Regions from separate parts of the Homo sapiens genome. Here region 1 is linked to region 2. The links come from fine-mapping of genetic effects on gene expression. A gene starts in region 2. The other region holds a variant in brackets. All regions are shown on one strand. Distances are between the middles of the regions.

Region 1 (5,546 bases), 150 kb before region 2:
TTGATTAAATGTCAGACATTGTGAATTGTACCCTGCTTGGTGCTGATTATTTTTATATCTCCATAAATATCTTTGAACTTTATTCTGGGATGCAGTCAAGTTGCTCTGAAACAGTTTGATCCTTTTGGGTCTTGATTTTGTCATTGTTTATGTGGGTCCAGAGCAGTTCTCAGTCTAGGGCTATGTATTCCCTACCACTGAGGTATGACTTTCCTGAGTACTCCACCAGTCTACCACAATTTATGTTTTTTTCCAGTCTGGCTGGTTAGAACAGGCACTATTCACTATCCTGTGTTTGCCCTGGACACTGTTCTCTGATCCTTCCAGGTGATTTTCCCTCAGCCTCAGGTCATTTCCTTAAAAATATATGCTAATCAGTGCTTTGCTGAATACTTGAAAAGGAACCTCCACAGATCACTCTCTGTGCAGTTCTCACCTTTTTGGTACTCTGTCTTGCAAACTCTACCTCTCTTCATCTTTCTAGACTCTCAGCTATGTTTCTTGACTTCAAGGAATCTGTCAAGTTCTATCTAGGCTTTTTCTCCTGATGCTATAGCCTGTGAACTCTCTGAAAAAGGTATTATGGACAATGACAGGGCTCACCTCATTAGCTAGTCATCTCAGGAATCACTCTATTTGTTGTCTAATATCTAGTAACTTGAAAACATTTATTTCATATATTTTGTCTGTTTTTCTTGGTTATTTCAGTAAGAACATATATACAGTTCCTGTTACTCTATATCTGGTGGAAACAGAAGTTCTTAACTTTATATTTTAGCAGAAAGTTTAAGTTAAATGTAATTTTGTTTTTGCTACCACTTATTATAAAAACAAAAATCATTGAATTGAGAGACCCAGGAATATTGTAGGGTCCTCATGTTTGGAGATCTTAACAAAGGGGACAGATGGCATTAGTTATGGGTGATTGTTTATTAAGAATTCCTTCTGATGTATGTGACAGAAAATGAATGCAAACCTTCAGCAAACACGCACACACACACACACACACACACACACACACACATAGACAACTTTTTGGCTTAATACAACTTCTGGGAAGTCCAAGGAGTTGGGCCAAGCAGATCTATCACTCAAAGTTTGAATGACAGTTCCAAACACACATGTTCTGTTGACCTGTGAGCCAAGATAAAGAGAACAATCCTCTTCTCTACAGAAATAGTCTGATTATCCCTGTTTGAGTCATGTGAACACTTCTGGATTAATTAGTTTCCAGAGAAATAAATATTTCAATTACTCTGTGAGTTTAGTTTAATTTGGATTTTGTTCTCTAGCCTCTCTGAATTCCCTGACTCCCCACCTATCTCCATGATTGACAATCTCATTAGAATCTCATGCAGTGGGGGAGGGACCCTGGCTAGTCAAAAATTTACCTGTGAAACAACAGGGAGCTATATCAGATGATCTGGCAAGATTTCCACCTACTCTAAAAATTTATAGTTCTAAGGATCAAAATGTTATTAAAAGGATTTGAAAAATGTCAACTATAGGGCTTCAAACAATGCATTATAAATTGATTCTCAAGAATCATTTCTTAAATCTTTAATGTTTTTCTAATTTTTAAAGTAATACACGCTTATTATTAAAATTTTGGACAATTGAGAAAATCTCACTACTCAAAGAAGACCCCAATAACATTTCAGTGTATGTCTGAATTAATAAATAACTTGATTTATTTGAATTAAAAGAAAGAAGACCTTAATAAAGACTGTGAGCGCTCTTTATTTTACATGCTTATAGGTGGAGTTGAACAACAAATCCTGTCATTTATGCACCCAGTAAAAATGAGCAGATTTTTCCATTAATTCTGGCATATGTGCGCTTGTGAAAGTCTTATGCCTCTAATTACTTGCTAGTGTCTGCTCTGCCCTGTGCACTGCTCAATAAGATGCACATCATTCAGATCCAGTCATTGTTGCTGTATTCTATTGTGTCCAAGCTTCACTACAATTTGCATTTTATCATGATATATTTCAGAAGAATCTTTTTATTTATTTATTTATTTTTTAATTATTATACTTTAAGTTTTAGGGTACATGTGCACAATGTGCAGGTTAGTTACATACGTATACATGTGCCATGCTGGTGTGCTGCACCCACTAACTCATCATCTAGCATTAGGTATATCTCCCAATGCTATCCCTCCCCCGTCCCCCCACCCCACAACAGTCCCCAGAGTGTGATGTTCCCCTTCCTGTGTCCATGTGATCTCATTGTTCAATTCCCACCTATGAGTGAGAATATGCGGTGTTTGGTTTTTTGTTCTTGTGATAGTTTACTGAGAATGATGATTTCCAATTTCATCCATGTCCCTACAAAGGACATGAACTCATCATTTTTTATGGCTGCATAGTATTCCATGGTGTATATGTGCCACATTTTCTTAATCCAGTCTATCATTGTTGGACATTTGGGTTGGTTCCAAGTCTTTGCTATTGTGAATAATGCCGCAATAAACATATGAGTGCATGTGTCTTTATAGCAGCATGATTTATAGTCCTTTGGGTATATACCCAGTAATGGGATGGCTGGGTCAAACGGTATTTCTAGTTCTAGATCCCTGAGGAATC[A/G]CCACACTGACTTCCACAATGGTTGAACTAGTTTACAGTCCCACCAACAGTGTAAAAGTGTTCCTATTTCTCCACATCCTCTCCAGCACCTGTTGTTTGCTGACTTTTTAATGATTGCCATTCTAACTGGTGTGAGATGGTATCTCATTGTGGTTTTGATTTGCATTTCTCTGATGGCCAGTGATGGTGAGCATTTTTTCATGTGTTTTTTGGCTGCATAAATGTCTTCTTTTGAGAAGTGTCTGTCCATGTCCTTTGCCCACTTTTTGATGGGGTTGTTTGTTTTTTTCTTGTAAATTTGTTTGAGTTCATTGTAGATTCTGGATATTAGCCCTTTGTCAGATGAGTAGGTTGCAAAAATTGTCTCCCATTTTGTAGGTTGCCTGTTCACTCTGATGGTAGTTTCTTTTGCTGTGCAGAAGCTCTTTAGTTTAATTAGATCCCATTTGTCAATTTTGGCTTTTGTTGCCATTGCTTTTGGTGTTTTAGACATGAAGTCCTTGCCCATGCCTATGTCCTGAATGGTAATGCCTAGGTTTTCTTCTAGGGTTTTTATGGTTTTAGGTCTAACATTTAAGTCTTTAATCCATCTTGAATTAATTTTTGTATAAGGTGTAAGGAAGGGATCCAGTTTCAGCTTTCTACATATGGCTAGCCAGTTTTCCCAGCACCATTTATTAAATAGGGAATCCTTTCCCCATTGCTTGTTTTTCTCAGGTTCCTCAAAGATCAGATAGCTGTAGATATGCGGCGTTATTTCTGAGGGCTCTGTTCTGTTCCATTGATCTATATCTCTGTTTTGGTACCAGTACCATGCTGTTTTGGTTACTGTAGCCTTGTAGTATAGTTTGAAGTCAGGTAGTGTGATGCCTCCAGCTTTGTTCTTTTGGCTTAGGATTGACTTGGCGATGCGGGCTCTTTTTTGGTTCCATATGAACTTTAAAGTAGTTTTTTCCAATTCTGTGAAGAAAGGCATTGGTAGCTTGATGGGGATGGCATTGAATCTGTAAATTACCTTGGGCAGTATGGCCATTTTCATGATATTGATTCTTCCTACCCATGAGCATGGAATGTTCTTCCATTTCTTTGTATCCTCTTTTATTTCCTTGAGCAGTGGTTTGTAGTTCTTCTTGAAGAGGTCCTTCACATCCCTTGTAAGTTGGATTCCTAGGTATTTTATTCTCTTTGAAGCAATCGTGAATGGGAGTTCACTCATGATTTGGCTCTCTGTTTGTCTAGGAATGCTTGTGATTTTTGCACATTGATTTTGTATCCTGAGACTTTGCTGAAGTTGCTTATCAGCTTAAGGAGATTTTGGGCTGAGACAATGGGGTTTTCTAGATATACAGTCATGTCATCTGCAAACAGGGACAATTTGACTTCCTCTTTTCCTAATTGAATACTCTTTATTTCCTTCTCCTGCCTAATTGCCCTGGCCAGAACTTCCAACACTATGTTGAATAGGAGTGGTGAGAGAGGGCATCCCTGTCTTGTGCCAGTTTTCAAAGGGAATGCTTCCAGTTTTTGCCCATTCAGTATGATATTGGCTGTGGGTTTGTCATTGATAGCTCTTATTATTTTGAAATATGTCCCATCAATACCTAATTTATTGAGAGTTTTTAGCATGAAGGGTTGTTGAATTTTGTCAAAGGCCTTTTCTGCATCTATTGAGATAATCATGTGGTTTTTGTCTTTGGCTCTGTTTATATGCTGGATTATATTTATTGATTTGTGTATATTGACCCAGCCTTGCATCCCAGGGATGAAGCCCACTTGATCATGGTGGATAAGCTTTTTGATGTGCTGCTGGATTCGGTTTGCCAGTATTGTATTGAGGATTTTTGCATCAATGTTCATCAAGGATATTGGTCTAAAATTCTCTTTTTTGGTTGTGTCTCTGCCCGGCTTTGGTATCAGAATGATGCTGGCCTCATAAAATGAGTTAGGGAGGATTCCCTCTTTTTCTGTTGATTGGAATAGTTTCAGAAGGAATGGTACCAGTTCCTCCTTGTACCTCTGGTAGAATTCGGCTGTGAATCCATCTGGTCCTGGATTCTTTTTGGTTGGTAAGCTATTGATTATTGCCACAATTTCAGAGCCTGTTATTGGTCTATTCAGAGATTCAACTTCTTCCTGGTTTAGTCTTGGGAGAGTGTATGTGTCAAGGAATTTATCCATTTCTTCTAGATTTTCTAGTTTGTTTGTGTAGAGGTGTTTGTAGTATTCTCTGATGGTAGTTTGTATTTCTGTGGGATCGGTGGTGATATCCCCTTTATCATTTTTTATTGCATCTATTTGATTCTTCTCTCTTTTTTTCTTCATTAGTCTTGCTAGTGGTCTATCAATTTTGTTGATCCTTTTGAAAAACCAGCTCCTGGATTCATTAATTTTTTGAAGGGTTTTTTGTGTCTCTATCTCCTTTAGTTCTGCTCTGATTTTAGTTATTTCTTGCCTCTGCTAGCTTTTGAATGTGTTTGCTCTTTCTTTTCTAGTTCTTTTAATTGTGATGTTAGGGTGTCAATTTTGGATCTTTCCTGCTTTCTCTTGTGGGCATTTAGTGCTATAAATTTCCCTCTACACACTGCTTTGAATGCGTCCCAGAGATTCTGGTATGTTGTGTCTTTGTTCTCTTGGTTTCAAAGAACATCTTTGTTTCTGCCTTCATTTCATTATGTACCCAGTAGTCATTCAGGAGCAGGTTGTTCAGTTTCCATGTAGTTGAGCGGTTTTGAGTGAGATTCTTAATCCTGAGTTCTAGTTTGATTGCACTGTGGTCTGAGAGATAGTTTGTTATAATTTCTGTTCTTTTACATTTGCTGAGGAGAGCTTTACTTCCAAGTATGTGGTCAATTTTGGAATAGGTGTGGTGTGGTGCTGAAGAAAATGTATATTCTGTTGATTTGGGGTGGAGAGTTCTGTAGATGCCTATTAGGTCCACTTGGTGCAGAGCTGAGTTCA
Region 2 (5,000 bases):
ATAGGGCTACTGTGAAGGTTAAATGAGATAGTTTATGTAAAATGTTTAGTAAAATGCTTGCCCTATAAAACCTGGGTAGCTGTTGTTGGTGCTGATGCAATGAATAGGGCCAATAACTAGACAGAGAGCTGCAAGAACTGGGGATGAGATGGTGTGTCTTAACATAAGTCCTAGACTCCTTGCCAACTTGCTAGAATAATGTTTTCTGCAAAAATTGACACATAAGAAGTAGAGGCTTTCTTTAAACTAGATCTAAAATGAAGACTGGCTATTTTATTTGCTATAATGCATGCCAGCTAATCCAATATATTTGATTAACACACTTGATCAGTCTAATATATTAGATTCTCACTATGGAAACAGTGGTGATTAAATTAACTGATGGCGGATAAGGTGAAAAGAACTAAGCCAATCCTTGAGAGACTAGAACACAAGATAGATTAGTTCAGGGATTGGGCCACTATTTATTAACAGGATTGCTACTTATGGGGCAATTCTGTGTTAGGATAGATGGTCCTGTGCAGGAAATTTGGCATGCCTGGGCTGTGCTTACTAAATGCCAGAAGTAACCCCTGCTGCCCCAGTCTTTGTGATAACTCCAAATATCCCACCATTTCCAAATGCCCCAGGACTGCTTCCTGTGAAGAACTATTGAGGTGTGGAAGGACATCTAGTGGTAGATTGGGAATATGACCCAGCATTTCTAGGTCAGTTTCAGTTTATACCCGCCATGATTATGCCTGTGGCCCTTTCTCTTAAATATGCCATGGTTTTACTTGGCTCATTGGAGATGGCTGATTCCTGGCCTGGGGCTGGGAAAAGGACAAGATAAGCCTGGAACATCATGTTGTGCTGGCAAGTGAGGACATGCCCAAAAATGCTGAGAAACATGTCAACAGAAACACGCACCAAATTGTAGGGCTCTTGCTGACCCCAGTCAGCAATCTAGGCATAAAAAGAAATAACTATGGCAACAAATTATAACCCACAGAATAAAAGAAGAACCTATGATGTAAATTTAAAAATGGGAGAGAAGGGAAATTTCTTCCTTAAAGTAGAGAGACTGCTAATAAGTATAGAAGAAATAATGAAATTAGAAAATCATCATTTGGAAACCTTTATAGCATTGATTCAGACAGGAATCTACACTGTATGGTAAGTGCTGTGAGTGAAAGTTTAAGGAGTATCAGGATGGCTATGTACTCTTAAAATACTTGTCAGTTGCAAAAGGAAAAATAGTATCTTTACAGTGGAGAAATCTGACAATAACATCACTAGTAATGGGACAAATTGATATACTGTGTCTGCTGATACTATATACTAAGAGGAACATAGCATCATTCCTGGTGTATAACTCTCAAAAGCACATAACCTTAATCTATTCAGAAGGAAACATCACACAAACCCAAAGTGAGAGAAACTCCACAAAATATCTAACCTATGCTATTTAAAAATGTTGATGTCATAAGATACAAAGAAAGACCAAGGAACTGTTCTAAGTTAAAGAACACTAAACGTACATGGCAACTGAATACAATACATGATTCGGGGTTTTTTGTGCTAAAAAGGATGTTCTTGGGATAATTGGTGACATTTAAAGCAGGTTTGCTGATTACCTGGGACATTTTTAGATGGATGGATAGGTAGATAGGTAGGTATTATAGATAGACTGATAGAGGAAATGATAAAGCAAATATGAAAAATATTAACATTTCAGGAATATGTGTACAGGGTACATGGGGGTATTTGTACTACTCTTGAAGATTTTCTGTAAACCTGAAATTATGTCAAAACAAGAAGCTAAAAATGAAAAATGTCCTGGTTGGGAAGACACATATGGTTGCTCAACCCATAGGGGAAGAGCTGGCAGAATATGATGGCTGTGACCTCTGCACGGTACTGAAGATATGGGCAACATGTTGAGCAAGGGCTGCTGTTATATTGAGAAGTGAGCTTTAGAATTGTTCAGCAAGTTTCTTCTTGTTCAGACCAGTATAGGCTTTCCTGGTAAGCTACTGTGCAATGTATTTGTTAATTATTAGCTCAGAGAGAGATTCAGCAAGTGGGCTTACATCTGTTCCCATGAAACACCATGAACTTCACACTCTCTGGGGAGGTCTAGGACTCAGAAATATAGATGTTAGTAAGAGCAAACAGACATAACAGATAACACATACAAAGTGCCTACCACATGCTAACCACTGCTGCAGGCACTTTCTATAGAAGAACTAATTTAATCATCACCATAACCCTATGGGGTAGATGATATTTTTACAACCTCCATTTTACAGATGAAGAAACTGAAGCATAGACCTGGTGAGTAACTCACCCAAGTATTAGTATGGAGGGGAGCTGGGATTGAAACACCAGTTATGGTCATTCCAGAGGATGAATGCTCTCTTCACCACTCTCCTCTTCTGCTTCCTGAGGGGCTCTGAGCAATGAAACTCTTCTTTCCAGATTGTGCTTATAAAGCAAACGAGGTGTCCAGGATTAGACCTCTAGAAGAGTCTGAGCTGTTGTACCCCATACTGGGGCAAAGTAAGTTGTTTGTGCTGAGTGGGGAGTGGAGCCAAAGCTCAGAGGAGGCATCGGAAGGTAGGAGCAGATATGCGGAGCAGACTAGCAGAACAGTCGCATGGCCAGAAGAAAGCTGGAGGGTTGGGCCGAGGTTGGGTCACTAGATAGCAGAGTGAGAGGAAGCAATGCCCAGCCTAGTGGGTGGCTGATCAAGGCAGAAACTGGGGGGTCAGTGTAAGAACAGGCTGGGCTTCAGAGCCAGAACTCATACACAAAATATTCTGGATTTATTCCTTGGGAAGGCTGTGTTCCAGTGTGTCTGATAAGGCCTTGGCCTCATCTTTCTGGTGGCACTCACCTTTCCCAAAAAGTAGCTAAGCCTAATCTTTGTCACTAAGGAAGTGGGGAACAAACACTGGCCGACACCTGCATCCCAGGCTGTGTGCTAGGTATTTAACATGTATTATCTTACTTAATGCAATGTTTTGAATAAGTGTACCTGAGCCAAACTGCCTACTGTGCACATATATATTAGGTTGGTGCGAAAGTAATTGCTGTTTTTGCTACTAAAAGTAATGGCAATTACTTTTGCACCAACCTAACAGAAGGAGTGACTATTCAAAGTGTGCACTCAACTTTCAGTTCAGTGAAATTTGGATTGTTTATTGGAGCTTGATGCAATTGTAATTAAATAGAATAATATAATTAGATAATTTTCACTGTAAGTGCAATACAAATATAGGTACTCAAAACACCACAGGTAGTAGAAAAAGCAGGCATGCTCTCATCGAACCAACATGGCAATTTTTGCGTACAACAGGAAGCATCAAACTCAATGAACTATGGAGGCCAGCTCAGGCACAATTATAGACATAATTTCTTAATCATCGTAACTATCTGAAGAAGGCAATCATATAATTTCAGCCTTTTGTGGTTATTGTAGGATTTAATTCAGTAAAGCATATAAAGCATGTGGCTCAGTGCCAGCCACAAGGGAGGCCCTGAATGCATGGCACCTGCTCTGCTCATTTTCTCAAGAGAGAAATGAAGCTTAGTGAATGTAAGTAATATGTCGAAAGCCACAGAAATAACAAATGGCAGAGAGAGGATTTGAATTCAGGTCGCTAGACTTTGTCCTCCATTTTTGTGCAGCTTTCAAACTAAGAATAACTTTTACATATTTTACTGGTTAGAAAATATTTTTTAAAAAAGAAATATATGCCCAGGCACATGAAAATTATATGAAATTCAAATATCTGTGCCATAAAAGAAGTTTTAGTTACACAGCCATGCCTGTTTGCTCATGGCTGCTTTCATGTTACAATGCCAGAGTTGGGTAGTTGACACAGAGATCATAGGACCTGCAAAGCCTAAAATATTTAATATCTGGGCCTTTACAGAGAAATTTGGTTGACCCCTGTCCTAGACCTTAGACCCCTGCTCTTTCCATTATTCTCAAGTGCCGGTGGATCCAGATCGGTTGTGACATTGCTTAATCTCCTGGCATTCTTGGGGAATTATTAAACTGCCATGTAGGTTGCATAAATGCTCCCTGCTGGCTTGAATAGGAGAGTTTTGAAGGTGCCAGATGGGAACAGATTCCTTTCTTTCATCTTAACAAAAATCCAATCTCACTCTCTTTCATGTTCAAGAGCATTTGATTAATTAGGACAGGAAGTAGGGGGGCGGTGGGGAGAACAATCCGAGCTGTTGAGCTGGACTGAGCTGGCAGTTTCAGGTGCTCTCATTTCAGCTTCTCCTCCCCATGTCTAGCAGGCTCCCTGAACTCCCAGCTGAGTGTAATCAGAGGCTGTGTAATTGGAGGGTGAATGCACAGGCTTTATATTCAGAGACCTGTATTTGTACTGTGATTCCCTACTTGCTAGTTGTATGGTTTTGCACAAGTTATTTAACCTCCTTCGGTCTCAGTTTCTGCAGGTCTAACATGGGCATAATGAGAATACCTATGGCTTTGAGTAATTTGGAGGATTAAAAGCAAACATATATGAAAAGATTTTTTTCCCTAAAGAGGTGGCTCAATGAGCATTCAGTAAATACTAGCTATTACTATTATTTTTTTTTTCTGCCTGCTTGTCAGTAGGGAAGGAGCTAAGTTTCTGATCCTAGTTTAAAAGCCCTTAAAGGTGTTTTTAGGACATTTAAAAAAAGTAATACCTGCACATAATACAAAATTCAGGTAGCACAAATAATAAAAATAAGCAGCTCACAAAATGATGTATCCTGGACTGTTCAAGGCAGCAGTATTCATAGTAGCCCTAAACTGGAAATGACCCAAATGCCCACCACTAGTGGAATGAAAAAAGCAACTGTAGTATGTTCACACAGTAGAACACCATTCAATAAGGATAGTAAACTGTCTGCAACTATACGCAGCAATGTTGATGAATCTCCTGAATCTAATGCTGAGCAAAAGAAGTCAGAAACAAAAGCACACATACTGTAAGGTTCTATTTATGTAA

Alleles and levels. Positions count from the first base shown, and alleles are read on the strand shown. Sizes are in standard deviations (SD) of each study's normalised expression.
With allele A in place of G in region 1, the expression in fetal neocortex of the gene that starts at base 2,118 in region 2 is lower (moderate effect, 0.55 SD a copy in Walker 2019).

The links. PIP is the estimated chance that this variant, and not a neighbour inherited with it, causes the effect. A credible set is the group of variants that fine-mapping cannot tell apart.
Region 1: its variant is the best candidate, but not a certain one, in a credible set for the expression of NPSR1-AS1 in fetal neocortex (Walker 2019, PIP 0.77).

The regions. Positions count from the first base shown.
Region 1 is chr7:34,908,727-34,914,272 of GRCh38, reverse strand. No RefSeq gene overlaps it. Among named protein-coding and RNA genes, the nearest start is that of MIR548N, 29 kb to the left of the region's middle. The variant A/G (reference allele first, on the strand shown) is at 2,589.
Region 2 is chr7:34,755,390-34,760,389 of GRCh38, reverse strand. NPSR1-AS1 (NPSR1 antisense RNA 1) reads left to right here and starts at 2,118. Exons shown (of 4, transcript NR_033665.1): 1 at 2,118-2,316. The region is part of intron 2 of NPSR1 (neuropeptide S receptor 1); the gene reads right to left.